Linked DNA regions of Homo sapiens: regions 2 and 3 are each linked to region 1. The links come from fine-mapping of genetic effects on gene expression. A gene starts in region 1. Each other region holds a variant in brackets. All regions are shown on one strand. Distances are between the middles of the regions.

Region 1 (10,088 bases):
ACATTCCACTACTAATGTATGCATGTGAGATGGAGATCTTTTGCCACTTGTATCATTTTCATAGCACAAACCCAAAACAAACCTAATAAGGATTTGTTAGGATATTTACTGTTAAATCTACTCAAATAAGAATAAGAAAATCTGGAATAAGAAAATCTGAAATGAAATCGCTGGTCTGGAAATTCTCCTAAAAGGCAAGAGGTGTGCTACTCGGGATCTGTGGCATTGTCTGAGAGGTTCTACTGAAGTTTTCCAGGGCAGCGAAATGCTTAGCACCCTGGGCATAGGTTTCAACGGATTGAGCCACAGGGATCAATTTCTCTTTTTCTCGGCCTGTAACTCAAACCTCACATGAGAAGGAGAGGGAGGGAGTGTTAGAAATGTGGAACTGTCAAGTTCATTCATAACAAGCATTGATTACCCACCGTGTGGTCATCACCTCGCTAGACACGATGGTAAAAAGGAAGGATGTGGAAGATTCTGTTCTTGCGCTCAAGTTATCGAGTTGCCCACGATCTAGACGATAGATACAAGATGGCAACTCTTCCTCTGTTCACCATGGAAAGGCTGGTGTTTGTTCTTCTAGATTCTGCCTTTTGCCCTTTCTGTGTTCTATTCTACGTGGGCTCCCCGGGTCATTTCATCTGAGCCCGTGGTTTCAACTAACTAACGCGCCTCCCTCCCAAATCACTACTCATTGAGCTCACTCCTAGGCTCCAGATGCATGTTTTCCAACTACTTCCACCCTCAGCTCCTCTCTACTGCTCATGATTTACATACAATTCCTCAGTAAACTGTGTTAACATTGCCTCTGAGATATAGCCAGAATCCTACCATTTCTCATTGCTTCCCCCATCACGACCCTGTCCAAGCCACAGTCATCTGTGGTCTGCACTATGGTGATACTTCTTCCAAACCAATATCAGTACCATAGTGCTGTTGCCTGCCCTTGATTCATTCCCCTTTCTTTTGGTAATAGAGACTTGAATCTCCTTTGTTGAATGTAACCATCAGCATCCCAGCAGATGATTAATCTAAAGGGGGTTTAGTAAAGGTTACATACAGATGTGTGGGCAGGGTTGAGGGAAAAAGCAGGGCTGATGGTGTGATACACTGTGGCAGGCAACAGAGGGGAGCCATTATCACCTCCAGGGTGGATAATTCTGGAGGTGGAGAAGGGAGAATTTACTAGAACTAGGAGAGAGTAGCTGTGTGAAGAAGGCCAGTTGACAGAAGCTTCAATAAATACATGTAGCCAACCTGCAGCGACCCAGAAGGGCAGGGGCCAGAGGAATAATACCCTTACCTTCCTCCTCCTCCAACCCTCGGGTCTCATTTCCAATGTCTTCTATTTGGTGAATTCAACTGTAAGTCAGAGGACAAGGGATCTGTGGAAGCAGTCCATGCAGGTTGGCCTCTTGAGGTTCAAATCAGGAAGGAAAAGGGTGGAGAGTAGGTCTGGAAGGGCCAACAGAAATGATCTAGCACAGGAAGCCACCTCTCCCCAAATCTCAGTCCACGCGATTTGTGAGGAGCTGTCAGAATGTTCCATGCCCCTTCTCAGGAGAGTGGTTTAGTGATGCACGGGTAACACAAGTTAGACCAATGGGATGTAGTCCTGGGACTTTTGTTGACAGCATCAGGGAAAAGAAACTCCCTTTCTGCTGGAAAGGGTGTGATCTGAAATTGTAAGCAGCCATTCTGCCATCTCATGGGGAAAAGGAAGCCTAAGAACGCAAAGTCAACAGGAAATAGAGTCAAGAAATGGAGGCCGGGTGCGGTGGCTCACGCCTGTAATCCCAGCACTTTGGGAGGCCGAGGTGGGCAGATCACGAGGTCAGGAGATCGAGACCATCCTGGCTAACACGATGAAACCCCATCTCTACTAAAAATACAAAAAATTAGCCGGGCGTGGTGGCGGGCGCCTGTAGTCCCAGCTACTCGGGAGCCTGAAGCAGGAGAATAGCATGAACCTGGGAGGTGGAGCTTGCAGTGAGCCGAGATCGCGCCACTGCACTCCAGCCTGGGCGACAGAGCGAGACTCCGTCTCAAAAAAAAAAAAAAAAAATGGAGAGAAAAAACTTAATCCTAATGTCGTAGTTTAAGCCCCTGAATCCGGCCATGCCTGAAGCCCCAAACTTTTCTATTATGTGAGTCAATGCATTCCATTTGCTGCTTAACCCAGTCTGATTGATGTATTCCATGAAAAAAAGAGAATCTTGAATAATACTGGAAAATGCGAACCCCGTTCCCTGAACCATCATGTAGGATTGCTCACTTCTTCCTCTGCTTTGTCAGCACTTTGCAAATGTCTCAGTGCACAAATACAACTGTATCACAATCACTGTCTCCCCCATCTGTGAGCTCCTCAGGTGGCAGATCTCTATGGACCTTACCCTTGCAAGCCCAACACCCACACAGGGCCTAATACCTCAGGGAAACTAAATTAAGCTAATCTGGTTGTTTGACTTAGGATCTCTCAGGGCCATTTTTTTTGTGTGAACGTGCATCAGACATCTCCAGGCAGGGCTATGGAATGCAGCTGTTTCCAATCTCATTTGATGTGAAAACTCAATTTTTTGGCCAGGTGCAATGGCTCACGCCTATAATCCCAGCACTCTGGGAAGCCAAGGCAGGAGGATTGCTTGAGTTCAGGAGTTTGAGACCAGCCTGGGCAACATTGTGAAACCTTGTCTCTACAAAAAGTAGAAAAATTAGCCAGGCATGGTGGCATGTGCCTGTAGTCCCAACTACTCAGGAGGCTGAGATGGGAGGATCACTTGAGCCTGGATGGTTGAGGCTATGATTGTGCCACTGCACTCCAACCTAGGCAACAGAGCAGACCCATCTCAAAACAAACAAAAAAACACCAAAAAAAAAAAAAAAAACAACCCTCAATTTTTGCAAAAGTTGCTGTGTTAGAGGAATTTAGAGAAAAAATAATTACTATAGTCCTTAGAGTGACCTTGACAAAAGAAGCAGCTTGCCATCAATATTAGTTAAACGAATGAAAGTGAAGAACTTAGTTTAAGACAAGATGGGGAGCAGGAGCAGCACGGTTGGAGGCAGCAGGAACCACAGAAGCAGCAAGCAGGAAGTAGGAGGGGCGATCTGCTGGACATACCTCGGTGACTATGCTGGGCTCAACTGCTGGGGAGCCCTTGGGGTCATAATCCAACCCTGATTTCTTAGTTTACATCTAACAGGGATTAGATGTGCTGTACACATTTTAGTCCATCTTCCTGCCCCATGATGCAGGCGCTGAGTGCCTTTGATGTTAAGCTTCACTGTGCCTCACTTTGCCTCTGAAAGGTCTTGAGTGGGTAATGAGAGCTGATTTTCTTCTAACTGCACATTCCTTTTTTTTTTTTTTTTTGAGACGGAGTCTTGCTATGCTGTCCAGGCTGGTCTCAGACTCCTGGCCTCAACCGATCCTCCCACCTCTGCCTCCTGAGTTAGCTGGGACTACGGGTGCGCACCACTGCGTGACTGCGCGTCCTTGTAGGTGGGAGATGAGCCCAGTTATTTTCCCTGCTGTGTGACCCTGCTTCCTTCTCTGCCGGCTAAGGGAAGAGACACCAGCTGCCTTCCAAGTTGGGCTCAGGAGCTTTGTCATCATAGTTGTTATTGGTGGTAATAATACCTGCCAATGTAAGCCTCGGTCCTATCACTGAAACTCGCTCAACAGCTTAGACCCCGGCTCTTCCCTTTGCGTAATAGTTGTAATCATGTCCCATGGTCTCCTAAGGCGTCGGAGACAAGCAAGACTGCGTGGAAGGGTTTTTACACGAAAAAGAAAGCATTAAACATGTGGATTGTATGACAACGGTAGATAGGGCATAGGGTGAAGAGGAGTAAGAGGAGGAGGGAGAGCGGGAGGAGGGAGAAGAGCACGAGTGGGGAGGAGAGGAGGGGAGGGGATGGGAGGGGAGGGGAAGGAGTGGGTAAGGGGAAGAGGGTTGTACCCGCCAGGGCGGGACCCAGCCTGTGCCGTCCCACACCTTGTGCTAGCTCCAGCTCAGCTACCTGCGGCCGCCTCTCCTCGGGCAATGAGGCGCCGGGAAGCCCACAGCATCTGATAATATCCGGGCCGCCGGTTGCCGGGAGGTGAACCGAGGTAAACTCGCCGCGCGCGGGGCGCAGTGTACATAGTAACCAGCCCTGAGTAAACGTTCGTCATATTCCTATGAGCTGCTCCGGGGACTGTCCTACGGGGCTAGCAGGAAAAGGAGATCGGCTCTCTCCGCTCCCGGTGGAAAACGAGAAGGTCGCCAGAGGTCCTGTTTTCGGGGTGATCTAAAGCCCCCGCCCCAGCGCTACAGCCCAAGCCCCCCACAGGCTGGGGACCAGGAACCCGGAGGAGCGGGAGGAGGGCGCGCGCGGCGAGACACCCCCACCCCGGCCCCCGCGCGCCCCCGCCCCGGTCCCCGCCCGGGTCCCCGCCTTGTCCTGGGCTCTGGCGCCTGCGCCGCCGTGCGCGCGCCCTGCCAGAACAGGAGGGGACGAGGCGGGCGCGCGGCGCCGGCAGCCTAGCTCAGCCGGGACACCGCCCTAGTCCCAGCCCAGGGGGCCGCTCTCGCCGGCGTCGAGGGCGTGGCGGCGAGGCTGCTGCTGCAGGCGGCTCCCGGCTCTGCCTTCGGCCCCGCCCGCCGCCCACCAGGCTCCCAGAGGCCCCGCAGCTCGCGCCGTCCGGCTCCCCGCAGCCCCGTCGGGCAGCCCGGGCCCGTCCGCTGCCCTCCCGGCTCCCGTCCTGCGGCGGCGGGGCGTGCAGGTGAGGCCCCACGGCGCCCGGCCTCTCCAGCAGGTTTGCACCCAGCGCGGGGCGGGGCGGGGCGGGGCGGGTGGGGGGGGTGGTGCATGAAAAGTTAAAAAAAAAAAAAAAAAAAAAAAAGCCGCCCCGAGAAGTCCGGGAGGGGTGGGCACTCCGAGCCGCGGGACCGGGAGATGCTACCGCGCGCGACCTCGCCTCCCGCGACCTCGCCTCCCGCCGCACCCTTCTCGCGCGCGGGGTCTAGTCTGGCAGCCTCGAGGGTGGTGTCCCGGAAAACAAAACAAAAATGTTTTGTCTTCTCCACCAACGATTTTCTCCCACCAAGTGTGTTTGACCTTTTGAAAAGCCGACAGGCCCAGCCTGCCTGTGAAGGCAGGAGCGGTGTAGGGGCGCCTGGAAGGTGGAAGCCCCCTGTCTTTCTCCCTTGCCCCGCTTCCCCCACGGTGCGTGGATCACCATCGCATTAGTGACTCCCTAACTTCTTGAAACTTGTCTGTCTGCTTCTGTCCGCCGCCTGGACAGGTAGGGCAGGAGTGATCTGTTCCAGGTTGATTCTTCTAGCTTCCGTGCAAAATCTGATCATCTCCTTTAGAGATTAGGATTCTAGTGTAGGAAGCAATCCAGATCCGTGTTTCAGATACAAACAAGGATTATTTAAAGTGATGTTTTCCTGTAGTGCTGAAAGCCAAAAATATTCGCTTCCACTTGTTGGAAGCCACCAAGTACACCACATTTATTTGAACTTTTCATAGAAGTCTCTGATGTACTATTTGGCAAAAGAAGCAATTGATTTATCTGTAGCTGTGATTACATACGATGTAAAGTAATTTGTTTTAAGACTATTTCATTGGCTTTGGTTCAATATCTTAAACTCTGTAAACACATAATTCAGGAGCCAGATATGCATCACACAAATGTGTTCTTTTTGGTGGGGATTTAAATTGATCTAGAAATGGGCTTTCCATCCAGGAAGACTGTGAAAAGCTTGAAAACTGAGTCTCTTCTTTAGCCAGGTCATCAGCTTTACATTTTACTGCATTGGCAAGCCTTGCCTTTTCTTTTCTCTTCTCTTCTCTTTTCTTCTTTTTGAGACAAGGCCTCGCTCTGTCATCCAGCTGAAGTGCAGTGGTGCAAACACAGCTCACTGCAGCCTCAACTTCCCAGGATCAAGCGATCCTCCCACCTCTCAGCGTCCTGAGTAGCTGGGACTACAGATGCCGGCTAATTTTTTGTAGAGATTGGGTGTCACTATGTTGCCCAGGCTGTTCTTGAACTCCTGGGCTCAAGCCATCCGCCCACCTCTGCCTCCCAAAGTGCTGAGATTACAGGCATGAGCCACCGCACCCAGCCAAACCTTTTCTCTCTTAGCCTGAAAACAGATTTCAGTGCTTTTCTAGGAAACAAGATTTTTCCTGCTGTTGAAATATAACGTTTGTAAAGGTTTCAAACATGTGAACATTAGGTAACAGACAAGAGCAGATTTTATATGGTGTTAGAGTTGTTGGTTGAAGGACTTAAAGCATGAAAAATAGTGTGACGCGGAAATCCATTAGCCTGAAGCCTGTGAAATAATGGAAGCTCTAAAGTTCAACACCGTTTGTTACTTAGAAAAAAAACACAGAAGGTGGAGGTCGGACAGCAATCTCCACTTTTCCCCTAGAATGTAGAGGTTCTATCCAGGGAAAAGAAATTATACACAGCACAACAAATAGCATCAGTCTTATATATCTCAACTTCAGTTATTCTTTAAAACCTGTTGTTTTCATATGTTTTGTAGGCTGGTTTTTGTTGTTTATTTCTATCTGTCTCTTGCTGACAAATTCCTGGTGGAGTGGAACTTCAATTATAACAGGACCAATTCTAGGTTATCTGTGAAAACAAGACATGGGTCATTGAAACATACAAAATACAAAAATCAAATTTTCACCCGTTTTACTTTACTGTCGCACGAAATTTTTCTTACACACAGCTACTAAAAAATAGTACAGTTCTACCTGTAAGTGGTAAATGAGTAGAGAATAGAAGGTAGGGCTTCGTGATAGCCGTTCAGAACTTCGCATTGACGATCCTAAGTGGCTTTTTGTTGTTGCTTTGTTTTTTTTTTTCTCTTTTTTCTTTTTTTTTTTTTTTTTTTTTCTTTTTTTTGAGATCTCCTTCTGTTGCCCAGGCTGGAGTGCAGTGGTGCAAACACAGCTCACTGCAGCCTTGGCCTCCCAGGCTCAAGTATTCCTCCCACCACAGCCTTCTGAGTAGCTGGGACTACAGGCGTGCACCATGTGTTTTTTTGTAGAGACGGGGTTTTTCCATGTTGCCCGGGCTGGTCTCGAACTCTGGAGCTCTGGCAGCCCGCCTGCCTCCGCCTCCCAAAGTGCTGGGATTACAGGCATGAGCCACCACACCAGTCCAAGTGTTTTGTTTTGTTTAACTTAGTTGAAATTTTTAATTTAGAAATTTAAAAAAGGAACTTAGTAGCCCAAAGCACCTATGTTTATTTTATATATTTTATACACTTTATGTATTTTATCTTGTTCATTTTATAAATACAGAAAAACCAAGGGATTTTTCCCAAGGTTATACAGCAGGACACTTGTAGAGCTGATAATGGAGCACTTGTTTGCTTCCAGTATTGTTTGGTAGCATTTTTAACATACAAAAAAAGTGAAAAGTACATCTAGCTAAGATACTGAAATGTTCACCAAGTTGGGAAGCCTATTAATTTGAAAAATTATTATTATTTTAATCCTGGAGGAGAAAGAATTTGCGTTTTCCTGATCAGAACAGAAAATGCAAGATCCATGCCATGTGCTTGACATTTTGCCTTGATAGATGACTTTTGTCACAGGCCTGTTGTGGCAGAGCAGATGGTCATGCTACTTGGAGTTTTTCCACTCATTTGATATTTCCATGAAGAAACAATTTGCCAGAAGCCAGCCGTAGTTAGAGTTGTGCTGGAGATGACGGGAAACCTGGATTAGCACAGACTTTTGCTTACAGGAGCTGGAGGATATCGGTTCAGCCCTTTCTGCTGGGCCAGTCAAGAGTTCCCTGGATTGGTAAACTGAGGAACAGTTTAGTCTTGTGATAGTTGGAGTGGAGCTATAATTATACCACTGCACTCTAGCCCGCATGACAGAGACCCTGTCTCTAAAAAAGGAAAAAGAAAGAAATATAGATATCTTGGGACAAACGACAAATAATTTGACAATAATCTAAAGAAAAATTGAAGGAAAATAGCTAAGACATTATTAGGATAACTGATAAAATTTGAATCCAGATTATGCATTTGACAAATTATGTATTAGATAATAGTATTATATCAATGTTAAATTTCCTGTTTTTGATAATTATCCTATGGGTTATATAAGAAAATGATCTTGTTCTTATACACTGAAGTATTTGGAAGTAAAAGGGGTATGCTCCATCTTTCAATGGCTCAGGAAAATGCATGTCTATAAAAATAGAGAAAGATAAAGCAGATGGTCAAAACAGAAGGAATTGGTGACTCTGGGTAAAGGATACAGCATACCCGAGTTCCTTGTGCTATTCTTATAACTTCTGTTTGAAGTTATATCAAAAAAAAAAAAAAGGTACTCAAAATTGAAGGTAGAAAACAGGAAATGAAGGTGTGATATTCTAAGAATTTTTTTTTTTTTAAGTCAGGTGAAGGATTATTTCCTGTGTTCTGTTTTTTAAAATCTTTTTACGGGTTAGACGAGGGAACTTGAAACAAACAAATCTTATCAAGAATAGGTTGACTTTCTCAAATTTCAAAATCTAGTCAGCCAGAGCTCCCCAACTTACCAGCCTCCAAAAACCCGGGCACAGTATTTTCTCTACCTCTTTTTAATGGGTTGGGAATAGGATAGAAACATTAGTGCCTCTAAGAGATAAGATACAAAGACAGCCCACCTTTAGAGATACTAAAAGTTAAATTGCACTTGGTTTTATCATTTCCCTGCCTAAAAACCCACAATGGCATGCTGATATTGACATGGTTTTTGTGTCAAAACTCTGTAACCCTACTTGCTTGGCAACCTGGCCCATACCTGCCTTTCCGACTGTCTCATGCCACCCCCACCAAACACCTTGCACCCTAGCCATGCCAGATCACGTGACCTTTGTGCATGCTGGTCCTACTGTCTTCCTGCCTTTGTTCATGTCCTGCTGGCTTTGTGTGGAATGCTCCCCATTCTTTTCCTCCTGAAATTCTGTTCATCCTTGAAGTCTCACCATTGCCTCCTTGGGAAGCTATCTCTAATCCCATGCAGAATTCAATTTACCTTTGTCTGTGCTGACATATCAGTGGGGTAACTAAAATACTACCTGCTGTTATTCAGCCTCCCTTATTAAGCATACACTGTGAGCGGGAAACTATGCCAGGGCCTGGGGTTTCACAGATACAGTCTTGTAGCTAGGAGTGATTTGTAAACAAATAATCACAATGTAAGTGTATAACAGAAAAATGAACCAAGCACTGTAAGAGCTAAGTCCACCTGACAACTTTGTCTTGAAGAAAAGATTAATGAAAGCCACAGTGAGATACACTGTCACTCCCTGCCCCGCTTCCGCAGGGCCCCTTTCCAGATTGGAGATTTCTGGCACGATAAATGAGTAAGTTAAAAACAGTTGTTGTACCTGTGGGCCACCCAGATAGATATATTCAATAGAAAGTGAAAAATACGGCTAGGCGTGGTGGCGGCTCACGCCTGCAATTTGGGAGGCCAAGACGGGGGGATCACCTGACGTCAGGAGTTTGAGACCAGCCTGACCAACATGATGAAACCCCATCTCTGCTAAAAATACAAAAAGTTAGCTAGGTGTGTGATGGCATGTGCCTGTAGTCCCAGCTACTCGGGAGGCTGAGGCAGGAGAATCGCTTGAACCCTGGAGGCAGAGGTTGCCAGTGAGCCGAGATTGCGCCAGTGAGCCGAGATCGCGCCACTGCGCCGAGACTGCGCCACTGCACCCCAGCCTGGACAAGAGTGAAACTCCGTCTCAAAAAAAAAAGAAAGAAAAAGTGAAAAATACAAGACTAGAACTCAGGATTGAGAGTGAGTCTTGGTATATAAATTTGAATGTACCCATATGGATGACTGATTTTCAGGGTATGTAGGCAGGAAAGACCAACAGGTAGATCACAGGCTCTTGGGGACATGGTACTTTTCCAAACTACCCATCCTCTTTATTGCTCAAGGTTCTGCTCTGGCTTCCCTCCCAACTTTGGTGACATTCATCCTGTCTTAAGGTCGTTGCACGAAATGAGAGCCAGTATTGACACAGGTGTGTGTGAACCACAGGGAGGCAGGAACTTAGTTGA
Region 2 (10,088 bases), 77 kb after region 1:
TAATTTTTGTTTGTAGAGATGCGGTTTCAACATGTTGGCCAGGCTGGTCTTGAACTCCTGACCTCAGGTGATCCGCCAGCCTTGGCCTCCCAAAGTGCTGGGATTACAAGCATAAGCCACCACACCTGGCCAAGGCCCATAATACTTTTAAGGGCCCATTAAGATGTTTTAATTTCTGGGAGGCGGAGGTTGCAGTGACCCGAGATCGTGCCACTGCACTCCAGCCTGGGCGACAGAGTGAGACTTTGTCTCAGATAAAAAAAGATGTTTTAATTTCTTTAAAATCAAGCAGGGGAAAGAACTTTTAGAGCAGCAAAAAAGTTTCAGTTTTTTTCCCTCGGGTTGGAAAAAAAATAAAATTTTTAGAGCCCACGAAAATGTATTACGCTGGGAGAGCCCCACAGAAGTCATAATGCACCCGACTGAGTCTTCATTCGTTCAGACAGGTTTATTGGGCAGGGTGCTTTCTGTCAGCTCTTATTTGATCCTTACAATCCAGATGAGGAAATGAGGCTCCTGGAGGGTGAATAATTTGTCTACAACAGTGATTTTAAAGGTGACAGAGGCAGAATCTGAACCTAGGTCCATCTGAGCCCAAACCCTTGTCTTCGCCAAGCCACACTTGGCATTTGCAAGCTCATCACTGTATTTAACCCAGTCCTCACAGATTAGGAGCAATTGCCCCGTTTTAAAACTGAGAAAACTGCCCGGGCGTGGTGGCTCATGCCTGTAATCCCAGTACTTTGAGAGGCCGAGGCGGCTGGATCACCTGAGGTCAGGAGTTTGAGACCAGCCTGACCAGCATGGTGAAACCCCGTCTCTGCTAAAAATACAAAATTAGCCGGGCGTGGTGGCATGTGCCTGTAATTCCAGCTACTTGGGAGGCTAAGGCAGGAGAATTGCTTGAACCCAGGAGGCGGAGGTTGCAATGAGCCGAGATCGCACCATTGCACTCTCAAAAAAAAAAAAAAAAAAAAAAAAAATGAGGAAACTAAGTCCTGGAGAGGAGAAGAAAGCGCCTTGCCCACAGTAACTTGGCTAGTTAGTGAAGGAGTCAGAACTAGCTCCCTCATCCTGATCCTCTCTGCACAGCCGCATTGCCCCGTCCAGAGCTTCTCCTGCCCTCCCTCGCTGTCCCCATCCTCCACCCTCACCACTGCCACCCTGCACAGATGGCTCCCCTGCCTGTCCCCCGACCTGCCTTTCTTGGTCCAGTTTCCCAGCCACAGAAAGGCCACTTAGGTCTGTGCGGCATCCACATCCCACCTCCTGACAAAGCTGGGGGCTGGCACTGCTGCTTGAGAGGGTGGGAAGAAAAGACAGGCGGCAGGCCAAGACGAGAGTGTAGGTTTAAATGACACCGCAGGTCCCCCAGACAAACGCCCCTCTGTATCTTTGGGCCTATTGTGACTGGCCACTGGCCAGCTCACACCGTGGGCAGCTTGAACGGCTGGGATTGTTTCCCCAACTCCTGTCCTCTCTGGAGTCCAGCGGCTGCCAGGCCCAGGCTTGGCAGGAAAGGGGAGGGGTGTTCCTTCTGGAATGGAGGGTGTGGAGGCAAACAAGCCTCGGGGAGGGTGTCCTGAACCAAGTGAGAGGCTGGAAGAGTCACAAGGAGGAAGGGGCCAGAGAGGGAGGTCCCTGGTCCCCAGCTGTTCAGTTTGCAGGAGGGCAAACTGCAGTCCAGACAGAACAAGTGGCCTGCCCCAGGTCACACAGAAAGTAAGTAACAGGGGTGAGACTAGAACCCAGGATTCCTAACTCCAGCCCAGGGTTCTTGCCCCCCATCTCAGGCCTCTCTGTTGGAGTTTTCAAGATGGCCGTGTTAAGTAGGTGAGGTAGTGAGCCCCATAGACCAAGACCTTGGGACTCAAAGAAAGGATGTTACACAGGACACAGTGGCTCACACCTGTAATCCCAGCACTTTGGGAGGCTGAGGCAGGTGGATCACCTGAGGTCAGGAGTTCAAGACCAGCCTGGCTAACATGACGAAATCCTGTCTCTACTAAAAGCACACACACACAAAAAAATTAGCTGGGCGTGGTGGTGCATGCCTGTGATCCCAGCTCCTCGTGAGGCTGAGGAAGAAGCATCACATGAATCCAGGAGGTAGAGGTTCCAGTGAGCCAAGATTGCGCCACTGCACTCCAGGCCTGGGCGACAGAGTGAGACTCCGTCTCAAAAAAAATAAAAATAAAAATAAAAAATAAAAAGGATGTCACATGCTAAAATTATAGAGCACTAGATTTCCTAGAATTTCATATTAAAATGCAGATACTCCCAGAGAATTGTCATCCTTAACTCATTAATAACAAACACTTTGTGGTTAGCCAAGCCCTTGGATAAGGCAGAGGAAGAGACAGAGAAACAAAAGCGAGACCACTGAAAGATCCATTAGGGATAAATTCAGATTTTTGGAGTTTCTAAGAAGGCACTGGCCTTGTTTTTTTTTTTTTTTTTTTTTTTTTTTTTTGGTTTTTTTGTTTGTTTTTCGTTTGTAGAGATGGGTTCTCACTACGTTGCCCAGGCTGGCCTCCAGCTCCTGGCCTCAAGTGATCCTCCCACTTCGGCCTCCCAAAGTGCAGGGATTACAGGCTTGAACCACCATGCCCGGCCTGGCCTTGGTTCTGGAAGTCAACACACTTGGTTCCAAAGAGATTGCTGGCACTCATTTGGAGTTGAATTTTTTCCTGCACTCCCATCCCCAATTTTTTTTCTCAGAAGTTTTCAGTTGCCCTGTTCATGGCATAGATATTAACTACATCTACATAGTCTTGCTTTTTGTAGGTGACTATGAAGTGACTCGGAAACCTCAGTTCGAGCTTTTGGGAGACTTAGTGCCTTACGACAGCAGGGTGGTTGCGAGGAAAGCTTAAAGGAGAGATGCATGGGCCGGGGGTCGGGGGTCTTACAAGTCGCCTCCCGGCCATGGCTCCTTTAGGGGTGGTTTGGTTCTTGCTGCTGCTGTTGCGCATTTTGTTTTGAATGAATTAGAAAAGAGGTCTAAAAAATGTACCAAATAGGCCAGGCACAATGGCTCACGCCTGTAATCCCAGCACTTTGGGAGGCTGAGGCGGGTGGATCACTTGAGGCCAGGAGCTGGAGACCAGCCTGGGCAACATAGTGAGACCCTGTTTGTACTAAAAATACAAAAGTATTAGCCAGGCATGGTGGCATGTGCCTGTAATCCCAGCTACTCAGGAGGCTGAGGCACGAGAACCTGGGAGGCAGAGGTTGCAGTGAGCCAAGATCATGCCATTGCACTCCAGCCTGTGGGACACTGTCTCAAAAAAAAAAAAAAAAAAAATTGTACCAAATAAACTACCAATGAACCTTCCTCTGTCTATGTGCTCCCGGGGGCTTTGCTGGCCCTCAGTCTCCCCATTTGTAGAAGAGAGGGCAATGGACACAGGAGTTTTCCAACTGGGGTCTCCAGGATCCTGGGACACGGAGTTGCTTCCTAGAGCCTCCACAGAGGGTGTGTGGTGTGGTGAAGAGAAATTGGGAGTGGGGTGGGAGGGAGGGTAGCTGGAATAGAAAGGAGGAGTTTTAATCCCTAAGCCTGTTGGGGGAGGGAGCTTAGTTTTCTTTTTCTTTCTTTCTTTTTTTTTTTTTTTTTTTTGAGACGGTTTCTTGCTCTGTCTCCCAGGCTGGAGTGCAGTGGTACAATCACAGCTCACTGCAGCCTCAACGTCCTGGGCTCAAGTGATCCTCCCACATCAGCCTCCTAAATAGCTGGGACTACAGGCACATGCTACCATGCCCAGCAAATTTTTATTTTTATTTCTTGTAGAGATTGGGTCCCACTATACCGTTCAAGCTGGCCTCAAGCTCCTGGCCTCAAGCAATCCTCCTGCCCCAGCCTCCCAAAGTGCTGGGATTACAGACAAGAGCCACTACACCTGACTGAGAGCTTTGTTTTCTATCATAAACTCATCCGGCAAACTCTCCAACAGAAGAGAAGAGTAGATCTCCTTTCCATCTAGACAAACACATCAGAAAATCTACAGGTTTCATTTTTTCTTTGGCTGACAGAACCTCCCCCACCCCAGTCAGGCTGGTTACCCGCAGACTGTGCCCGGCAGCGCGGACCTCGGCATCTTCTTGCTCCTTCCTACTGGAGGCTGGAGCCCCTGGTCCCTGGAATCCCTGCCCTTCTCTTGCTTCACCCCTCGCTCACTTTAGTGGGTGCATCCTCCAGGGGCTTCCTGGGAAAAGGTGCATGGGGTAGGGTGGGGGTTTTTTTTTTTTTAAAGACTTCATGCCCAAAAGTGTCCTTTCTCATAGCATCCTGTTCTTGTTTTATAGATGCAATATCTTAGCTGTCTGAATATATCAATGTTTTCTTCTTCTCTGTGCATTGTCTCTACTTGCCTTAAATGCCTCCATCTGTTCATTGTTTTGTTTGCTGTCTGTCATGCTTGGGGCTTTTCTCCTCTCAAAGGTCTTTTCTCCTCTCCTTGGCTATCTGTTCCTATTTAAGAGTAAGACATAGGCTGGGGGTGGTGGCTCATGTCTGTGATCCTAGCAATTTGGGAGGCTGAGGCCAGAGGATCACTTGAGTCTAGGAGTTCAAGACTAGCCTGTGCAACATAGCAAGACCCATCTCTACAAAACTAAAAATTAAAAAAGTTAGCCAGACATGGTGGTGCACACCTGTAGTCCCAGCTGCTCAGGAGGCTGCACTTAGGTCCAGGAATTCAAGGCTGCAGTGAGCTATGATTTGCACCACTGCACTCCAGCCTGAGCAACAGGGTGAGACCTTGTTTCAAAAATAAATAAATAAGGAAACAAAAATCCGTTCAAAACTCTAGGTGAGGTGGGCAGAGCTTGTCAACTAGCAGCCTCTCCATAGGCCGACTGGACAGAACCTGGCCATTGTATTAGAAGATTCTCTAGTCAATCAGTATCTGTAGGTCTATTCCCTTTGGCTGGTCTGTTTCCCAGAGCCTAGGCTTTGACATTCCCATTTTCAGCCAGAGATTAGCCTTTGGCAGAGCTGAGCTTCCCAGACAAATGTGCCTATGAATCTCCTGGGGTCTGGCCGAGGGGTAGGTTCTGGCTAGCAGGCCTGAGTGGAGCTGAGATTCTGCATTCCCAACAAAGCGCCAGAGCTGCCGGTGCTGCTGATCCATGGACCACACTGTGAGGGCCACAGCCTGCGGCAGCACTGCCCAAAATGACTTGACACCATCCTGTGCTGTCCAATGCGGGAGCCACCAGCCACGGCGGGTACTGGGCAGCTGAAATGTGGCTAATGCAACGGAGACACTACATTCTTAATTGTATTTAAGTGTAATTAATTTTTCTTTAACTTGCCATGGCTACATGTGGCTATCATGTCAGGCAGTGCAGGGTTACCTCCTCCTGGCTGCCTCTGCAGACGGGGGCAGAACTCACTCTGTTCTGCAGGGTGGAGGAGGCCCACAGTGGTGAGGACGGAGGGAAGGGGTGGAGGGGGGCAGAGTGGAGCTGCGCCTTAACTTTTGTCTTCCTCTTTCTTTGGGTGGGGGGATGGAGTCTTGCTCTGTCACCAAGCTGGAGTGCAGTGGTGCGATCTCAGCTCACTGCAACCTCCGCCTCACAGGTTCAAGCGATTCTCCTGCCTCAGCCTCCTGAGTAGCTGGGACTACAGGCATGCACCACCACACCTGGCTAATTTTTGTATTTTTAGTAGAGACAGGGTTTCACCATGTTTTGTCAAGTTCCAGCCTGGTCTCAAACCCCTGACCTCAGGTGATCCGCCCGTCTCAGCCTCCCAAAGTGCTGGAATGACAGGCGTGAGCCACTGCGCCCAGGCAGTCTTCCTCTGTTTAGCCCCACCTGGCACCCTGACGTTTGGTGATCTCTGTCACCACTCACTCCTGAGTCTGGGGGGCTTCTTCAGTGCAATCAGCTTTAATTGGTTTCCTAGTCTGTAGGTTTAGGCCTTTGCCTTTTCCAGGCTGTTAAGTCATACTCAGCCGTCGGCTTTTCCGGCTTTCAAACCTGGATTGGCGTCTCTCCAGTGTGGTTGTTTTCTCTTCTGTACCCTTTGGCCTTGAGAGTTGACGCCTCTTGATTCTTGATTCCTTCACTGTCATGTGCCAGGGG[G/C]TTCAGGATGAAGCAGAGATGAATAGTCGTGCTCCATCTAGTTTGCTGAACCAGCCAGAAGTCCTTTCTGCTTTTTTTTTTTTTGAGACGAGGTCTCGCTGCGATGCCAGGCTGGAGAGCAGTGGTGCTATTTTGGCTCACTGCAACCTCCACTTCCCAGGTTCAAGCGATTCTCCTGCCTCAGCCTCCCAAACAGCTGAAATTACAGGCACCCGCCACCACGACTGGCTAATTTTTGTATTTTTAGTAGAGATGGGGTTTCACCATATTGACCAGGCTGGTCTCGAACTCCTGGCCTCAAGTAATCCACCTGCCTTGGCCTCCCAAAATGCTGGGATTACAGGCATGAGCCACTGTGACCGGCCCCTGCTTTCTTTTGTTTAAAAGATGTATCCCAAACTTTGTTTATGTCAAGATAAGGCCAACCGGAATTCATCCTTCTTACCTGTAAGTTCCCTGCAGGCAGGAAATTCATTGTGTTCAGTAGCCTAGAGAAACCACCCTAAGTTACTGCACGGACTGAGAGTCGCTGGGAGAAGTCCAAGGCTCTGCCTGTCTGGGAAAGAGAGCCCAGCTAACCAACCCAGCGCACTTCCTCTAGTCTGTAAAGGGATTGATGAGGCTCATGGAGGGGCCAGACAGCTGAAAGACATCCTTGCAAATCAGAACTGGCCAGAGAGGGGCCTAAAGCAGACAGTCTACTTTAGTAGACATTTACAAGACTAAAGTCCTTACAAGACCAAAGACCTTCTAAGCCCTTGGCAGGGAGGAACTCTGGAAAGGAAGATTTGAGATTGGTTATGAGTTAACTAGGCAAATAAATCCCACAGATGGGATAGAATTCTGGCTGGCAGGGGCTGGGCTGGACCGGTCCTTCAGGACAGGATGAACTATGGATACCTTTGAAGTGAAGTTAGAGGTAAGTTGGTGCTAAGACTTACATGAAATCAGCTTGCTCAGCAGGGAAGGAATCAGGCCTGCCCAGTTGCCTCTTGAGCCCACTCCCTATTCCCCTACCCCAGCTGGCCTAGCGGCTCCAGGACTCTTTCTCTGTCCGTCTCTCACAGCCCTTCTCATGCGCAACCTCCTGATTCGTTGCTCGTGCCGACCACCCCCTGCACACATCGGATCCACCTCAGTGCCTCCCGTGGTGCTTGGCCTGTGTGTCTGCGTGTAAAGGCAGTGTAGATGAAGCAGGAGTGGATTCAGAGTGCACACCTTGGGATCAGACAGATAAGAGCCCAACTCCTATGTAGGAAGCTGAATAATGGCCTCCCAAAAACATCCTCATCCTAATCCCCCAAACCTCAGAATATGTTAGTTTGCACAGCAAAAGGAACTTTGCAGATGTAATTAAGTTCATGACTTTGAGGTGGGGAGATTATCCTGGATTAGCTGAGTGGGCCCAATGTCATCGTAAGGTTCTTTATAAGGGAGAGGCAGGAGGGTCACAGAGAGAGGAAGAGATGTGATGATGGAAGCAGAGATCAGAGAGAGCGAGGTAAGACGATGCTACGCTGCTGGTCTGAAGATGGAGGAAGAAACCACGAGCCAAGGAATGCAGGCAGCTTGCAAGAAAAGGCCCAGAAATGAATTCTCCCCTAGAGCCTCCAGAAGGAACACAGCCCTGCTAACACTTTGATTTTAGCCCACTAAGGCCAACTTTAGAATTCTGACCTCTTAAACTGAAAGAAGATTAATGTGTGTTGTTTTAAGCCACTAAATTTGCAATAATTTGTTAGAGCAGCAATAGGAAACGTATAGATCCTAGCTTTGCCATGTATCAGCACAGATGCCTCAGGCAAGTTTCCTAACTTCTCTGAGCCTCAGCTCCTATGTCTGTAAAATAGGAATAATATATGGAGAAAACATATACAAAGTACTTGGCATGGTAACTGGCACGTAAAAGACACTTGATCAATGGCAGTAATTGTGCTTTTGGTCATCGCCATCGTCGTCATCATCATGGTTATTGGTTGTTTATCCACAGGTATGAAAACAGACTGGACATTTTCCTTCTTATCTAGTTCTTCTTGGATAGGGAGAATAGGAAACTGTTAAGAGGCAGGCCAAATAGCTCTACTCCAGTGATTCTCAAGCAGAGAAAATTTTGTCTCCCAAGGACATTTGGAAATGTCCTGTAACATTTTTGGTTGTTCTAACTGGTGGGATGCTACTGGCATCTAGTGAGCAGAGAGGCCAAGGATGCTGCGATGGTGCTGAATATCCTATAATGCACAGGACAGCCCCTCACACCAAAGAATTACCTGGCCTGAATGTCAGTAGTACCAAGGATGAGAAACTCTGCCATACTCTGAGGCCTGGCTGTACCTCTTGGGCTCAAAATATCAACAGGTAGAAAGAAAAGTGAGCAGAGAGTTGCCAGGCACGGTGGCTCATGCCTGTAATCCCAGCACTTTGGGAGACCAAGGCGGGCGGATCACCTGAGGTCAGGAGTTCGAGACCAGCCTGGCCAACATGGGTGAAACCCCATCTCTACTAAAAATACAAAAAATTAGCTAGGTGTGGTGGCGCACATCTGTAATCCTAGCTACTCAGGAGGCTGAGGCAGGAGAATTGCTTGAACCCGGGAGGTGGAGGTTGCAGTGAGCTGAGATCACGCCACTGGACTCCAGACTGGGTGACAGAGCAAGACTCCGTCTCAGAAAAAAAAAAAAAAAAAAAAAGTGAGCAGGTGAGCAGAATCCTTCCCTAGCAGGGTCACTGACCATCAGAGTGTCCCCAGGAATACTGCTTACCTCCCGGGGACCAGGATTGCCGAGGACGGTTTGGAGTAGGAGATCTGAGTTTGAGACTCAGCTCCTCCACTGACCTGCTGTTAGATTTTGGGCAAGTCCCTTAACCTCTCTGAGCCTCCGTTTCCTATCAGCACAGTGGAGATGAAAAGACCTGCCTCGCTGTGTGGATTGAATGGGGAAGCATGTGAAAGCACAGTGCCTGGCACTTGCATAGGGTCTGCTTGAGTGTGGGCTTCCTTCCCTCCTGGCCTAGAATATCGAGGTGGCATTATTATCCTCTGACATATTCACTGAGGGGCATAAACCCATTAACCCTGTGCCCTCCCCCCGCCCCACAGGGACAGCGGGACACCTGGAGATTTACATGGGAGCTCCTATGGAGGTCGAGGACTCTCAAGAGTTGGGTCCTTGGCTTGAGCCCAGAGACTGAGAGGTAGACGGAAGCCACAGGTCACATTCTAGCTCTCAGTCAATCTCCACCACAATGTCCACGGGTCTCTTCCTCCCACCGACTTCTGGCACTGTGTGTGCCACCCTTTTGGCACCAGCAAAGTAAGCCTTGTGACCACTTTCAGCTGGGGTTTCTATTTATAACTCTTAGCACACTCAGCTTATCATATCTGCAGGTCTTGGGTTAGAAGCTCCTGGAGTCCCCTTTTCTTACAATGTGGGTCACAAAAATCAGAGCAAAGGACATCTGAGCCACCGTTTGACAGGGTGGGGAAGTAAGACTTCCCCTGAAGTCTGTGTGTGGTGGGCCTGAAACCCAGACTTCTGGAGCCACAGGCTGCGGCTTTTGCCATAGGACTGCAGTATGATATTGATCAGGCACCTTTCTGTGGTCAGTGCTGGGCTAGGCATGGGGTGGGCGGTGGGGTGGGGTTGATGCCCAGTACATGTGATTGAAGAAAAGATTCTGAAAGGAAACAATTCCTTTTCTCATTCTTTCGGTCTGAGTTCCTCAGGACATAATCCCCTTGGCCCCTCTGGTTTTTTGGTTTTTATTTTATTTATTTATGTATTGTTCTTTGGTTTAAAACAGACCCACGGCCCTCTTTGCGTCTTCTCAGTCCTATGCACAGGGTGGGCATTGATTGAATGGATGGGAGGACAGATGGACAGAAGAACGGGTGGAAGGACTGTGTGCCCAGTGAGTGGGTGGGCGGGTGGGTGGGTGGGGGCATGAGTGGATAGCAGGATGAAAGAATAGATGGGTAAATGGAGCAGAAAATGTGC
Region 3 (10,088 bases), 40 kb after region 1:
CTCACTGCAAGCTCCGCCTCCCGGGTTCACGCCATTCTCCTGCCTCAGCCTCCCAAGTAGCTGGGACTACAGGCGCCCGCTCCCACGCCCGGCTAATTTTTTTTTTTTTTTTTTTTATAAGTAGAGACGGGGTTTCACCACGTTAGCCAGGATGGTCTCGATCTCCTGACCTAGTGATCCGCCTGCCTTGGCCTCCCAAAGTGCTGGGATTAACCAGGCGTGAGCCACTGCGCCCGGCCTTAAATAAAATATTGTAGTCATTAATGGTGTGTTTGAATTGAAGAGATACCAGGAGATAGAGGTGAAGTGCAGTACTTTTATTCTTTAAGAATATAGTCTTTAGCCAGGTGCAGTGGTGTGTGCCTGTAGTCTCAGCTATTTGAGAGGCTGAGGTGAGAGGATCACTTGAGTTCAGGAGTTCAAGACCAGCCTGGGCAACATAGCAAGTCCCTGGCTCAAAAAAAAAAAAGTTTCCCATTCATATTAACTCCATCTTTTAAAAATGTCATGATTACAAAGTGAAAAGATTTGGCTTTCTTAGAGGCTCAATCACAGAGGTGAAAGTGACCTTGGAAATCATATACTCTATCCCCATGTTACACAGATTAGAAAAACTGAGGTTATGGCACTGACTTAGGCACCCCCAGCAAGGCAACCCAGGGACTACAACTGGCAATCCCAACTCCTGGGCTAGGGCTTTTTCTACCTTTTTTTGCATTGGCCTCTTAAAGAGGCAATGAATACTAATTCCTGGCATCAGAAAAAAAAAAAGGCATGAGGTGGGAGGATTCTTTTTTCCCTGATGGGAAACAGTGAATAAGAAAAATCTCATCATTCGATGGAAGAGGTGACTTAATAATTTTATTAATGAATTTGATGTCCCATGTTTTGTAGTTTTGTTATCATTGAACCATTGGGGCTGGAATCTGCCTAAATAATTTTATCTTGGTAGCCAGCAATTATGTTGGTATTTTATGTGGGCCTTCCCAGATTTTCATATTAATGAAATGACTAATAGTCGTACTTAAGAGGTAACTCTACTAAAGCAGAATGAGATCTAATATGTTGTGGAAATAAAAGAGTTTGCAGTGGAATGATACTCTCACTCCGTGCTTGTAAAATTGAGTTCTATTCAAGACGGAACTGCTATGACTGGCCTATTCAAGGCTTCATATTTTTATACAGACTATTTCACAGACCATAGATTTATTTTAAAAGGGAAAATCTCACACATAATTAAGCAGTGGAAAATGTGCTCAATGCTATGGTGCGTCAGGCCCTCTGTCTACCAGGTTTCTCCCCTTTCTGCAGAGCTGTGGACCCTGTACGTACCAAACAGGTGAACTTGGTCCATCTTTCCTTCTTCCTTTTTTTGCACATTTGCATTTATATCTTCCTGTACTAAAAGAAACAAATTATTTATAATTGGGGTGACAATATAAAGGAACAAAAGATGGGGCAATAGTTGCTTCCTAGCTGGAGCTGTAAGTCCATGTTACAGAAACTCACTATTTAAAAAGTTTTAAAAGATTTATGAACCTTGTCCTACAATTCGCTGAATACTTATTTGTCTTTTAAACTCCCCTCGGTGTATGGATCATCTTCGTCAGAATGCCGTTGTTTCATTGTGAATCAGGGGAAAATGTTAATCATTTGGAGACTGTTTTCTTATTACCAAATGTACAATCCATAAGACAACTGAAAGCAACAACTGCTGGGTTCACTGACAAAGATTATAAAAATCATCACGTTCAAAGTAGAGTTTTTAGCCAAGGTCAAGAACTAACCTGGGGCTGAGTCAGCGTCTCTACCCACTTAAATAACAGCGTAAAGATCTTTCACTAAATTCGTTATGTGGTCTGTCTGGATGTAAACCTATATATTTCCTTTTGAAACAGAATCATATCCTGCAGACTCTTGGCACTCCTGCATAGCTTTGACCGAATGTTCACTCTCATCGTAATGGAAGATTTCTATCTATGCAGATAATACATGTTTTTAAATACTGTTTTCTGTTTAGTCCTCAATCTTCCTAACTCAAATTGGGGACTGAGGAGAGAGAAAGGTGGTTACCCCTGTTACCGTGCCATATTCTTCTTGCTGCTTTTCAACCCCACGTGATTGTTGATTGACGGTTCTGCTATAATGTGCGTGCCCTTCAAGTTTCAGAAAACTTTCCCAATCATTTCACTTCAATCTTAATTGAACCCAAGAGTCAAAGTTATTATTTTCTCCGAACGTGTTTGTGATCTTCTGTTATATTTTGGGGCATGTTACCTTTATGGTATATAAGCTGTAGTGCATACTCTTTGTATTGCAAAAAACTGGTCAGTAATTTATGTACATGTATTCCACATTTTAGTGTGCTTGAAGTGACAATCCATAGTTTGTAGTAGTTTGTTATTTGTCAACTTTACCCTGTGTTTTAAGGACATCTAAACATTCCTTGTCCTATCAAGATGACAAAAGCAGAATGTAATTTTTTTTTGGAAGCTTCGTGATTACCTGTAACAAGTTCTGTTTTTAAAACGAATACAAATAAAGTTAGTAACTATTTTTAAATCAGTCCATTGAGTTGAGTTTTTTTGTGTGTAGTATTTTCAATACGCATCACTTACATTTAGCTAATAAGACAGAGAAGTGCAATATTGTGTTTGTTCCTTTCACAAGAGTCCTGTTGAACATTAATGCCGTGCAGTGCCAGAGTTCAAGGTGGTGAGTCACTGCTCACTCTGTAAATAACCACTGCACTTTCAGCTCTTCCCCAA[G/T]AAACCTTTTACCCTGGTTTCCCCTTTGGTTAAAAATGATTTATTCCGGGTAAAGACTTACTTTTTGTCTCGGTTAAAAAAAAAAAATCTCCAAAATGTGGAACTATAAATGACAGTAGAGGTTATCTAGTGCAGTGGGATTTCGAATACTTATTTTTAAGCCATAGGACTCTGCTCTTTGTTCAAATGAAATCTTACACAAAGCCAATGTAAAACTATTACAAAAAGGAAAGGTAAACAAAGCTGCTCCTTTTCAAGGGGCTGGGGGAAGAATGGGGACCTGAGTTCAACCCCTGTGAGAGCTCAGCAGAACAGACCCAGACACACCCCTCTATTGCCCCTGCCTCCCTCCACTTCCTCCTCCATCCCAACCCCACCCCCAACACACCTTTACAAGAAAGTGGCCCCAGAGGCATTGCCAAATGCACACATCTGGATGGTCATGGACCTGGGACTAGAACCCATTTCTTGACATTCTTTCTACCACACTCCACTACTTTGTTACACCAAAATCTAATTTTTCTGGATAAATGTATCTGGATAAAAAGGTTCTTGATATTGTTTTGTTTTTGAGACAAGGTCTTGCTCTGTCGCCTAGGCTGGAGTGCAGTGGCATGAACACAGTTCACTGCAGCCCCAACCTCCCAACTCAGTCTCCGAAGTAGCTAGGATGACAAGTGTGCACCACCACACCCGGCTAATTTTTGTATTTTCTGTGGAGACAGGGTTTCCCTATGTTGCCCAGGCTGGTCTCTAATTCCTGATCTCAGGCGGTCCACTTGCCTTGGCCTCCCAAAGTGCTGAGATTACAGGCATGAGCCACCGAACCTGGCCTTTTTTGTTTTTAAAAAACTAAAGCGGAGTCGCTGAGGACATTTCCACTTTGAAGTTTTTCCAAGCTGTGTTCTGTGGGGCTGCCTCCAGGGGGCGCCATGCTTCCAGGTTCCTGGGGCCTTTCACTCCTGCTTCAACTCTCCTATTATTTGCTATACCTAAAGGTCCTAGCATGTTTTCCACTTGAGCTAAGGATTCCTTGGCTAAAACAGAAAATTGGAAAACCACTGCAAAGAACCTAGGACAAAACACACACACAAACAAATTTTTTTTCTGAGACCAAGTTTCAATCTGTTGCCTAGGCTGGAGTGCAGTGGCGCAATCTCACCTCACTGCAGCCTCTGCCTCCCGGGTTCAAGCAATTCTCCTGCCTCAGCCTCTCGAGTAACTGGGACTGCAGGCGCACGCCATCATGCCTGGCTAATTTTTGTATTTTTAGTAGAAACAAGTTTCACCATGTTGGCCAGGCTGGTCTTGAACTCCTGACCTCAGGTGATCCATCCACCTCAGCCTCCCAAAGTGCTGGGATTACAGGCACGAGCCACTGCACCCGGCCAAAAACAAAATTTTTAATGCAGAGTAGGAAATACAAGAATCAAGATTTAAGTAATTTACCTAATAGACTGGCTTCAAGTTAAACGCATACAATGTATGTATCAGATGTATCAGAGTCCTATTATCACTGAGAAGTATGTTTAAAGGGCAGGAGTGAGCCACCACTATGTTCCTGCCCTCAATGAACACATTAAAATGTTCTAATCTAGAAGAAGAAAAGATTAAAATTCTTGCACACACAGGAAAGATCTCATCTTGCCAAGCTTCCCCGGGTCTTCTGAGACATAGAAAGTATAAATGTAAGCAATTTGTAGATTAGATATTTCAGTAAGGTATTTCAAAGTAAGTTACTTGGGAAAAGTTTGTGGTCCGAAATGTTTGGAAAAGTTAAATGCTGAAAATTAAAAGTTAAAGACCTAAATCTAGAATGTAAAATTACTAATAGAACAAATTGTGGGAGAATATCATTGTGACCTAGAGGCAGGGAGAGACTTCATAAAACTTTAAAAGCATAAGCTATAAGGTAAGAATTCTAATTGGTTACATCAAAATCAATGATTCATGTTCAATGAAGAATGCCATGAAAATGTTCACACAATAGGGAGAAATATTTGCAGTCCTGATGTTACCGGAAAGGGCCCTGATCCAGACCCCTACAGGGCATTTTTAGATCTCATGCAAGAAAGAATTCGGAATGAGTCCACAGAGTAGAGCGAAAGCAAGTTTATTTTATTTATTTTTATTTTTTTGAGACGGAGTTTCACTCTTGTTGCCAAGGCTGGAGTGCAATGGTGTGATCTCGGCTCACTGCAACCTCCGCCTCCCAGGTTCAAGCGATTCTCCTGCTCAGCCCCCCCGAATAGCTAGGATTACAGGCATACACCACCACGCCCGGCTAATTTTGTATTTTTAGTACAGACGGGGTTTCTCCATGTTGGTCAGGCTGGTCTCGCACTCTGGACCTCAGGTGATCCACCCACCTCAGCCTCCCAAAGTGCTGGGATTACAGGCGTGAGCCACCGTGCCTAGCTGAGTAAAAGCAAGTTTATTAAGAAAGTAAAGGAATGGGCCAGGCATGGTGGCTCACGCCTGTAATCCTAGCACTTTGGGAAGCTGAGGCAGGTGGATCATTTGAGATCAGGAGTTCGAGACCAGCCTGGCCAACATGATGAAACTCCGTCTCTACTAAAAATACAAAAATTAGCCAGGCGTGGTGGTGCGCACCTGTAGTCCCAGCTACCTGGGAGGCTGAGACAGGAGAATCGCTTGAACCCAGGAGGCGGAGGTTGCAGTGAGCCGAGATTGTGCCACTGCACTCCAGCCTGGATGACAGAGTGAAACTGTGTCTCAAGTAAAAGAAAAGAAAAGAAAGTAAAGTAAAGGAGTGAAAGAATAGATACTCCATAAACAGAGTAGGGCGTTCCCAAAAGCACAAGGGGGAACGTGCCTGCCTAAGATACAATGCTTGTTTATATATAAGATAAAGCAAAAATCATGGCGGAGATGTGCTCTACTACAAAGGTTTGTGACAAAGGACTGTTAATCTTTGCGTAACTGCTGTCTTCCACAAGCATCTATATTATTATCTTTAAAGCGAAACATATTCTTAAACTAAAAATGCTTTTGTTCTTAAGATATTGGGACATCAGGACATTTCCTGGGTCTATTATTTCCCATTAACATTAACATTATTAACTTGTACCCTTAACTGTAAATATCCTGTGACTAAGTACACCTAACCTCCTAGGAATGCAGTCCAGTAGGTCTCAGCCTCATTTTACTGAGCCCCTATTCAAGATGGAGTCACCCTGGTTTGAACACCTCTGACACTAACACAGGGGAAATAACTATAAAATGCAAAGAGATTCTGCAAATTGACAAGGAAAAGCAGCCCAATAGAAAAATAGGCTACAGGATATGAAAAGTAATTGACAGAAAAGGAAAACAATGAGCCTATGAAGAAATACTAAAACCTAGTAATCAGATAAAGTGCAAATTAAAATGACAAGATGCCATTTATACCTATTGGATTCTCAAAAATGTAAAAGCAATTAATGCCAAGTATAGCCAGAGGGAGGGCATATAGGAAATCTGATATAAAACTGGTGGAAGTATAGACTAGTTTAGTCATTCTGAAGAACAAACTGGCAGTCCTTGGTCATCTAAGTAAGAACAAAACCTCTGACTCTGCAGTTCTGCTCCTGGAGATAGATGAGACAGAGAGAGAGATGTCCCAAGAATATCCCAAAGGGATTCTCACACAGGGCCATAAAGAGCTATGTTGAGGATGTTCATTGCACCATTATTTATGGAGACAAACTGGTATTTGCAACTGGAAAATGAACACTATGGAGAACCATGCAGCAAGAGTAGCCATATACACAGCCACATGGATATATCTTGAAAACAGCTGAGTGCCAAAAGGAGGAAGATGTATCTAACATTTGCATTATGTGAAGTACTGCACAAAGACAGTAATGCACTTTGCAAGAATACATATAAATAAAAAGATACACATTAAACATATATCTCCAAACATAAGAGGCATCTTGCACAGATCAAGGATAATGTGCAAGATAATTGCACACTGATCAAGGATAATTGCAGGATAATTGATTAAGGATAATAAGTCTGATTTACTATGAGACTTTATATCACCTTTTGATAGACTTTAAAGGGTTAACAGATTCTTTTTTACTTTACTACATTATGTAGATGAAAATTCTTTATTAAATGTACTCCCATATGGATGGAAAAAAATATACTGTATCATTCATTCTTCTCTGAGCTACAAATGAAGAGCGTTGCATGTGGTTTGACTCTAGATTCACCATTTCCTTTTGGTTCAAAGAAGTAATCAGGTTAATTCGCGGCCTGGTGCTATCTTTCTTAAATATCTTTTGAATAATTGAGATCTTTGATGGGAAATTATACAGTATTCTGTCCTGAGAGATTTGACCAGGCTCCTTCCCCCAAAGGAGGAAATTAAACCAAAAATGATTTCTCAGAAATTGCCTGAGTAAGCCCTGTGAATGAAAGGTCTTTTATGGACTAAATGGACTAGCCTCCTCTGACTTATTTCCTTGATAACTTCAGTTACTTGGCAGGCTATTTATTCTATCCCATTAGATATTTCTAACAACTGTTGGAAAGTCTAGAATGGAGATTTGTCTCCTTTGCAAATGAGAAGCAGCCCTTGGGCATCCTGCTAATCCTAGATACTGTATACTAATGACTTCTATTGTGAAAGGGCACAGAGCTACCCTCCTGCTTAGTTCCTGTCTCTAGATGTGTCCAATTATATGAATTGAACACTTTAAGGTGTGTTTTCCCGGAGAGAAGTTAACTAGTTGTTCATGCTAGAGAAAAAGGAGACAGTTAAACTGCAGGTTTAATAAAAATCCATTAAGGGGTGTATTACTTATCTATTGCTGCACAACACATTATCCCAAAATTTAGCAGCCTAAAACAAGAAAACATTATCTCACAGTTTCTGAGGATCAGGAATCTGGGAGTGGCTAAGCTGGACAGTGGTGGCTCAGGGTCTCTCAGAGGTTGCCATCAAGTCATCAGCAAGGCTGTGATAAGGACAGGAGGCAGAGAAATTCTAGGCTGAAAAGGACAGGGACCCTGGCAAAGCTCCACCCTCAAGCCTGGAAACATGGCCCAAACTTAGAAAATCCCTGTATTCCCATTCAAATGTTGCCCTTTCCAAAACCACCCCTGGCCCACCCAATCCCCATCCTGTACCCATAAAAACCCCAGGCTCCACTGGCAGAGAGCAGAGAAGGGGAGAAGAGAAGAAGCAGCCGGATGTCAGAGAGAAGCAGCTTGACTTCAGAGGGACGGCTTGACAGTGGGACTTTGGAGAAAAGTCCGATTGGAGATGGCCAGACTTCAGGGGAAGACCACCTCCCCGCTCCATCCCCTTTCCAGCTTTCCTTCCATCTGAGAGCCGCTTCTGGCAGCAATAAAATCCCCCGCATTTACTATCCTTCAATTTGTTCATGTGACCTGATTTTTTTCTGGATCCAGACAAGAGCCTGGGATACGGAAGGCTGTCACACTGACCCTCTGCCCTCGCTGGTGGAAAGCAACCACCTCACGTGAAAAGGTGGAGAGAGGGCCCACTGAGCTGTTTAACACTTAAGCCGTCTGTGAACGGCAGAAGCTAAAAGAGTGTTCACTGTAGGCCGGGTGCGGTGGCTCACGCCTGTAATCCCAGCACTTTGGGAGGCTGAGGCAGGCAGATCACGAGGTCAAGAGATCGAGACCATCCTGGCCAACATGGTGAAACCCCGTCTCTACTAAAAATATAAAAATTAGCCGGGCGTGGTGGCGTGCGCTTGTAATCCCAGCTACTCAGGAGGCTGAGGTAGGAGAATCGCTTGAACCCAGGAGGCAGAGGTTGCAGTGAGCAGAGATCACACCACTGCACTCCAGCCTGGTGAGAGAGCGAGACTTTGTCTCAAAATAAATAAATAAATAAATAAATAAATAAATAAATAATTTTTAAAAAGAGTGTTCACTGTAACACTCCTCCAGTCTCTTGGGGGGGGGGGTCACAGGTACTCCCCTCTAGATGCTGCCATGGGAGTTTTGCTCCTACCAGTGCCCAAAAGCACTTGCCCCAGCTCCTGCACCTGTTCACCTGTGCTCCCCATCCCACGAGGGGTTGAGAGCTGTGGGATAAGTAAGTGAGGCACCCCTGTCGCAAGGCTCACAAAGAGGTCAAGGGGAATTTCCTGTTTCAGCTGGACAGTCTGCTTCCCTGCTCACTCACATGGCTGTTGGCAGGAGGCTTCAGTTCCTCGCCACAGGGGCCTCTCCAGAAGCCTGCTCACAGGACATGGATGCTGGCTTCCCCCGAGCGAGTGATCAGAGAGAGAGAAAGAGAGAGAGCCCAAGATGAAGTCTTTTTATAACCTAATCTCAGAAATGACAGACCATCACTTCTGCCATATGGTATTGGTCATAGACCAGCCTGGTACAATGTAGTAGGAGAAAAAGGGGGCTAAAGTAGAGAGGAAAATGTATAGCTCTAAATGCTTCTGTTAAGAGCTTAGAAGGGCATAGGGTAAGGACTCTTTCTTCATCTCTCAGCTGTCTTTGTCTCTACCTCTCTTTGTGTGTCCACCAAATTCCTTCTTACTGCAAAAAGGATGTCCGCTCGCAGCAGAGAACATGGTAACCAACAACTCAGGTGGAAGGAGAGCTTCTTTCTATGATTCCATATTGCAGTGGGATTCTCATTGGCCAGATTGGGTTGCCTGCCCATCCCTGAGGCCAGATGGGCAAGGCTTTTACCCAAGAAAGGGAAATGAAAGCAGGGCAAACAAAAATAAAATAGCTATCACAGTGAACTTCAATCACAGTAAACTTCAATATCTCAAGAAACTTTATAAAGACCAAAAGGGGAGAGTATTTTATTCATTGGTGAATTAGTCCGAGTTTAGAGACCTAATAAGTAAGCACTGATTTTTATCTGGTCTTCATTTTTTTCACCACTCAATTCTGACTCCAGGCAAGATACGAGAAGTAGATTTTAAGCATGTTTGATAAATGTACCCAAAGTAAGTTCTGGTATAGAGAGTTTCAGACAGAGAGTTTTTATGATATTTACCACAGAGCTTCCTTATGATCTTGATGTTGAATGTGAAACAACACAATTATCCCAGTCTTCCACGTCATAAGAAGAGACATATCATACATGCCAGTATACATAAAGAACAGTATTTTATCATTACTCTAAATTTTTAATAGGGTTAGCCACTTATATTTTGGTTTTGTGCCATTTCCCTATTTAAGCACCTAAAGATCCAAGAAAGGAAATAATTTCATAACATGTTTTTATTTAGATTTTCTGACTTTATAAATAAACGATGCCGGGTGCAGTGGCTCACATCTGTAATCCCTGCACTTTGGGAGGAG

Alleles and levels. Positions count from the first base shown, and alleles are read on the strand shown. Sizes are in standard deviations (SD) of each study's normalised expression. Not every link is listed here.
With allele T in place of G in region 3, the expression in liver of the gene that starts at base 4,490 in region 1 is higher (moderate effect, 0.65 SD a copy in GTEx).

What was found. PIP is the estimated chance that this variant, and not a neighbour inherited with it, causes the effect.
Region 2: its variant is the best candidate, but not a certain one, in a credible set for the expression of RCAN3 in tibial nerve (GTEx, PIP 0.69).
Region 3: its variant is the best candidate, but not a certain one, in a credible set for the expression of RCAN3 in liver (GTEx, PIP 0.68).

The regions. Positions count from the first base shown.
Region 1 is chr1:24,498,347-24,508,434 of GRCh38, forward strand. RCAN3 (RCAN family member 3) reads left to right here and starts at 4,490. Exons shown (of 5, transcript NM_013441.4): 1 at 4,490-4,804. It overlaps RCAN3AS (RCAN3 antisense RNA), which reads right to left and starts at 4,036. Exons shown (of 2, transcript NR_144360.1): 1 at 4,002-4,036. RefSeq lists an enhancer at 3,176-3,275 and silencers at 3,879-4,051, 4,333-4,832, 6,339-6,539.
Region 2 is chr1:24,574,959-24,585,046 of GRCh38, forward strand. The region is part of intron 1 of NCMAP (non-compact myelin associated protein); the gene reads left to right. Among named protein-coding and RNA genes, the nearest start is that of NCMAP, 24 kb to the left of the region's middle. The variant G/C (reference allele first, on the strand shown) is at 6,094.
Region 3 is chr1:24,538,476-24,548,563 of GRCh38, forward strand. It overlaps RCAN3 (RCAN family member 3), which reads left to right. Exons shown (of 5, transcript NM_013441.4): 5 at 1-2,565. It overlaps NCMAP-DT (NCMAP divergent transcript), which reads right to left. Exons shown (of 3, transcript NR_109781.1): 3 at 799-1,401. Among named protein-coding and RNA genes, the nearest start is that of NCMAP-DT, 13 kb to the right of the region's middle. RefSeq lists an enhancer at 2,584-2,878. The variant G/T (reference allele first, on the strand shown) is at 2,769.